Regions from separate parts of the Homo sapiens genome. Here region 1 is linked to region 2. Evidence: fine-mapped QTL for protein levels in blood plasma. A gene starts in region 2. The other region holds a variant in brackets. All regions are shown on one strand. Distances are between the middles of the regions.

Region 1 (3,034 bases), 54 kb after region 2:
AAAGGATATGAACAGACACTTCACAAAGAAGACATTTATGTGGCCAACAAACTTAAGCAAAAAGCTCATCATCTCTGCTCATTAGAGAAATGCAAATCAAAACCACAATGAGATACCATCTCACACCAGTTAGAAAGGCAATCATTAAAAAGCCAGGAAACAACAGATGCTGGAGAGGATGCGGAGAAATAGAAACGCTTTTACACTGTTGCTGGAAGTGTAAATTAGTTCAACCATTGTAGAAGATAGTGTGGTGATTCCTCAAGGATCTAGAACCAGAAATACCATTTGACCCAGCAATCCTATTGGGTATACACCCAAAGGATTATTAATCATTCTACTATAAAGACACATGCGCACATATGTTTATTGCAGCACTGTTCACAATAGCAAAGACTTGGAACCAACCCAAATGCCCATCAATGATAGATTGGATAAAGAAAATGTGGCACATATACACCATAGAATACTGTGCAGCCATAAAAAAAGATGAGTTCATGTCCTTTGCTGCGAAATGGATGAATCTGGAAACCATCATTCTCAGCAAACTAACACAAGAACAGAAAACCAAACACTGCATGTTCTCACTCCTAAGTGGGAGTTGAACAATGAGAACATATGTACACAGGGAGGGGAACATCACACACTGAGGCCTGCCAGGAGGTGGGGGGCTAGGAAAGGGATAGCATTAGGAGAAATACCTAATGTAGATGGCAGGTTGATGGGTGCAACAAACCCCCATGGCACATGTATACCTATGTAACAAACCTGCACGTTCTGCACATATATCCCAGATCTTAAAGTATAATTTTTAAAAAAAGTCCAGTTTCTAACCAAAATTATGGGACATGAAAAGAAACAAAAATTAGGGCATCTACACAGGAAAATAAAATAAAACACAACAAAAGAAGTCAATGTAAACTGTCCCTGAAGAAATCCAGATGTTGGATTTACCAGCTCTCAAATTTAAAAAATCTAACCTTCCATATTAAAAACTAGAAAAAGAAGAGCAAACTAAACCCAATGCTCACAGAAGGAAGGAGATAATAATGATAAAAGCAAAAGTAAAGAAAATAGAGAATATAAACACCGTAGAGAAAATAGACAAAACATAAGTTGGTTCTCTTAAAAGATCAACAAGGTTGACAAACATTTACTAGAATAATCAAGAAAAAAAAGAAACATCCTCCAAATTACTAAAATAAGGAATAGAAGAAATGACATTACTACTGACCTTACAGAAAGGGAAAGGATTATAAGGAAATACTACGAACAATAGTATGAACAGCTAACAGATAACATCATACATAATAACAGAAGAGTAAAATCTTTCCCCATAAGATCAGAAACAAGATAAGGATGTCTGTTCTCAACACTTCTACTCAGCATTGTGCTGGGGACTCCATTCAGGTCACTTTGGCAAAGAAAATAAATATAAGCCATCCAGATTGGAAAGGAAGAAGTAAAACCATGTTTGCAGATGACATGATCCTGTATATAGAAAACCCTACAGAACCCACAAAAAAATCTCTATTAGAGCTAATAAGTGAGTTGGGCATGGTGGCTCACACCTGTAATCCCAGCACTTTGGGAGGCTGAGGCAAAAGGATCACCTGAGCTCAGGAGTTTGAGACCAGCCTGGGAAACATAGTGAGACTCATCTCTATTTTTAAAAAATAAAATAAAACTCTAAAAAAAAACAATAAAAAATAGAGTTAATAAATGAGTTCAGCAAGGTTGCAGGATTTACAAGCTCAATATACAAAAATCAAG[TA/A]TGGAAAAAACAGTCCAAGGTGGCCAAATAGGAACAGCTCCATTCTACAGCTCCCAGCGTGAGTGATGCAGAAGACAGGTGACTTCTGCATTTCCAAATGAGGTACCAGGTTCATCTCACTGGGGCTTGTTAGACAGTGGGTGCAGCCCACGGAGCAGAGTGGGGCATTGCCTCACCCTGGAAGGGCAAGGGGTCAGGGAACTCCCTTTCCTAGCCAAGGGAAGCTGTGACAGACGGTACCTGGAAAATCAGGACACTCTCACACTAATACTGCACTTTTCCAATGGTGTTAGCAAATGGCACACCAGGAGATTATATCCCATGCCTGGCTCAGAGGGTCCTATGCCCATGGAGCCTCACTCACTGCTAGCACAGCAGTCTGAGATCGAACTGCAAGGTGGCAGTGAGGCTGGGGGAGGGGTGTCTGCCATTGCTGAGGTTTGAGTAGGTAAACAAAGCAGCCAGGAAGCTCGAACTGAGTGGAGCCCACTGCAGCTTGAGAAGGCCTGCCTGCCTCTGTAGACTCCACCTGTGGGGGCAGGGCATAGCTGAACAAAAGGCAGCAGAAACTTCTGAAGACTTAAACATCCCTGTCTGACAGCTTTGAAGAGAGTAGTGCTTCTCCCAGCACAGAGTTTGAGATCTCAGAATGGACAGACTGCCTCCTCAAGTGGGTCTCTGACCCCCAAGTAGCCTAACTGAGAGACACCTCCCAATAGGGGCCGACTGACACCTCATACAGCTGGGTGCCCCTCTGAGATGAAGCATCCAGAGGAATGTTCAGGCAGCAACATTTGCCATTCTGCAATATTTGCTGTTCTGCAGCTTCCGCTGATGATACCCAGGCAAACAGGTTCTGGAGTGGACCTCCAGCAAACTCCAACAGATCTGCAGCTGAGGATCCTGACTGTTAGAAGGAAAACTAACAAACAGAAAGGACATCCACACCAAAACCCCATCTGTACGTCACCATCATCAAAGACCAAATGTAGATAAAACCACAAAGATGGGGAGAAACCGGAGCAGAAAAGCTGAAAATTCTAAAAATCAGAGTGCCTCTTCTCCTCCAAAGGAACACAGCTCCTCACCAGCAATGGACAAAAATTGGATGGAGAATGACTTTGACAAGCTGAGAGAAGAAGGCTTCAGATGATCGGTAATAACAAACTTCTCTGAGCTAAAGGAGAGTGTTCGAATCCATTGCAAAGAGGCTAAAAACCTTGAAAAAAGATTAGATGAATGGCTAACTAGAATAAACAG
Region 2 (2,500 bases):
CACTGGCAAATGTCTGGGATAAGGTTAGAGATGCTGTATGCATCACAGTATTTGACTCCAACTCATTCTGATACTAGTCCTATTCCCTGCCCAGGGAAGAACCTAGGACTGAGGTGTGAGGGGTGGGTGGTCATCGTCCACATACATTACAGCTTCCCGGGGACAGTGGCTACTGGTGGTCCTTCTGTAGCTCTCCAGCCTCTGCTTAGGGATTTTCTTATTGATAAATCTGTAGCAGCAGGTAGTTGAAGTATTAATCCCAACTGCAATGAAACAACAAGAAGAAAAGTCCATTGAGGGTGTGTCCTGGGTCTTTCTGTTTGTAAAACAGGGAATGGTAAGAAGAAGGAATCAGAAAGAAAGGAAGAGGTGGAGGGAAAAGCTGCCCATCCCAAACCCAATGTCTCTGCCCTTTGAGGCATTTCATAAACTCCCTTTCACTTTTATGGACTGTGAAATAGGGATGCACCATCACCAGTTGAAAGACGGAAGAGGAATTGATGGCTACTCTGGGCATTGCTAGGAGGGGCTAATATAATAATCCAATTCCTTAGAGCAAGGGTACCCCAACTATGGATCCCCTTTTAGGCTCTGAGCATTCAATGCTTGGTCATGAGTTTCCCTGATACGTACCACCTCTGCAGAGCTGCTGTTTCTGGAAGCTGGGCTTCCACAGACCAGATTCTGGGTCTCCCGGTATCTGGAAACAGCCCGCACACCCATCCCCAGAAGCCTCCTGTCTTTGATCACCCTGATCCCAAATTCTGCTGGAAGCAGCTGGAGTGGTAACTGCACTGAGGGTGTTCCCAGAGCTGGAATCCTAGAAGGAGCTGGATTTGGGGTTCACAGCTGGAATTCTAGTTCAGGCTCTACCCAACAGCAGCTGTGTGGTTGGGCTCACCCCTTATCCTTTTTCTAAGTTACCTTATCTTGGAAAAGTAGCTGTTAAAGTGAGACTGTGGGTATCAGGTCTTCTTGATTGGTCCAGGATAACCCAGAGAGGGGGCAATGTGCTTCAAGGAGAAGGAGAGAGGGACCTTACCTGGCTGAGCAAGCCCCTGGGGGCTGAAAGCAGCTGCTGTGAGCAGCAGACACAGAAGTGCTGCAGAGGCTTTCATGTTGGAGGGTGAGGGCATGGGCTTCCACATGAGAATTGGAGGTTTCTGGTTTGGTCTCAGCCCCTCTGCTCCTCTGGAAGCTCTGTCTCTGCCTTTTATAGGAAGCAGAGAGGATGAATCATAGAATGGAGTAATAAATCTATGGAGTAATAAATCTGCTGAGCCAGTGCACTTCAGTGGGAGGATAGGAAATGACAGTATGAGTCGAGGCTAGCCTGTTTTTCAGCTAAGACCAGGAGTGGTAGGTGAGGTAGGGTCTATGTAGAGGAAGACCACAGTATGTAATCTATGGCTATTATCAAGAGACCAGTTTCTCTGAAATGAGACACATTCTATAGAAAAAGGAAGGAATCAGGGATACCAAAGTCAAAGATATGTAAGGGATATTCCCCTTTTCCCTTTGGAGTGGTATCCCTAGGACACGAGTCCACAAAGAGACATTCAAACTTTGGTTCAACTCTACAAAGGACTCAAAGATTCTTCACTGTCTTAAATCCTGGTGGCTTTCTAAAACCCAGAGAAAAGTAAAATAATAGAACATTAGCAGAAAAATAAAATTCAATATTCTTAGAATAATAGTACCTAAAATTGTAGTGTCTATTTCAATAATCTATTGCTGCATAGCAATCTATCTGAAAACAGTGACTTAAAACAATAACAATCTTCTGGGTTTTTTTGCTCTTGACTATATCACAAGGCCTTCATTCAGTGTCTGGGGTCTGGGCTGGGAGGACTTCAACAGCCAGCAGTTGGACCAGATGGAATTTCTCAGGTGTCTCTCTCTCTCTCTGTATGTGTGTGTGTGTGTGTGTGTGTGTGTGTGTGTGTGTGATCTTTCCAGTGGTCCCTCCACATGGCTAGATATTTTGCATGATGGCTTAAGGATCCCAGGTGCAAGGTTAGGGAACATAGTCATACCTCTTAATGGGAAGAGTGTAAAATAATTTGAGGATATGTTTTAAAACCACTATTTGTTTTATAGGCTATCGGAACTGCACAGCATATCAAGATCTTAAAATACTGTGTTTCTAAAACATCTAATGAGCTGTGAAAATATTTTTCCAAGTAAAAGAATATAGGGAAGGCAAATTTATCGACAAAATCAGAGACCTTCAGTTTGAATCAGAGACAAGAGACTTCTTGTCATTCTTCCCACACACATATCTCAGAAATACAAAGAATAAATTTTGGAAACCACTAATCTAGCTCCTCATCTCACATACAACTAGCTCCTCATCTCACATACACATTACAAAATCACCAACTAATCGCCTTCCATATCAGTGAAAAGGGGTTTGATGAGAGACCATGGGTGGGGTCCTCATGCCTATAACTGGGCCATGGATCATGGACATGGAATGCAAAAAAGGAAAATTATTCAA

Which allele goes with the higher level. Alleles are on the strand shown, and positions count from the first base shown. The strength of an association depends on the size of the effect and on how common the allele is.
In carriers of allele A in region 1, the plasma level of the protein whose gene starts at base 1,188 in region 2 tends to be higher than with TA alone (weak association).

The links. A credible set is the group of variants that fine-mapping cannot tell apart. PIP is the posterior inclusion probability: the model's chance that the variant is causal. Protein levels are from antibody-based Olink assays in UK Biobank. Linkage for the fine-mapping came from a reference panel and not from the study's own genotypes, which makes the PIPs less certain.
Region 1: its variant is the best candidate, but not a certain one, in a credible set for the plasma level of the CCL7 protein (UK Biobank, PIP 0.51).

Annotation. Positions count from the first base shown.
Region 1 is chr17:34,214,618-34,217,651 of GRCh38, reverse strand. No RefSeq gene overlaps it. Among named protein-coding and RNA genes, the nearest start is that of LINC01989, 33 kb to the right of the region's middle. The variant TA/A (reference allele first, on the strand shown) is at 1,774.
Region 2 is chr17:34,268,909-34,271,408 of GRCh38, reverse strand. It overlaps CCL7 (C-C motif chemokine ligand 7), which reads right to left and starts at 1,188. Exons shown (of 3, transcript NM_006273.4): 1 at 1,043-1,188; 2 at 146-263. The coding sequence starts at 1,118.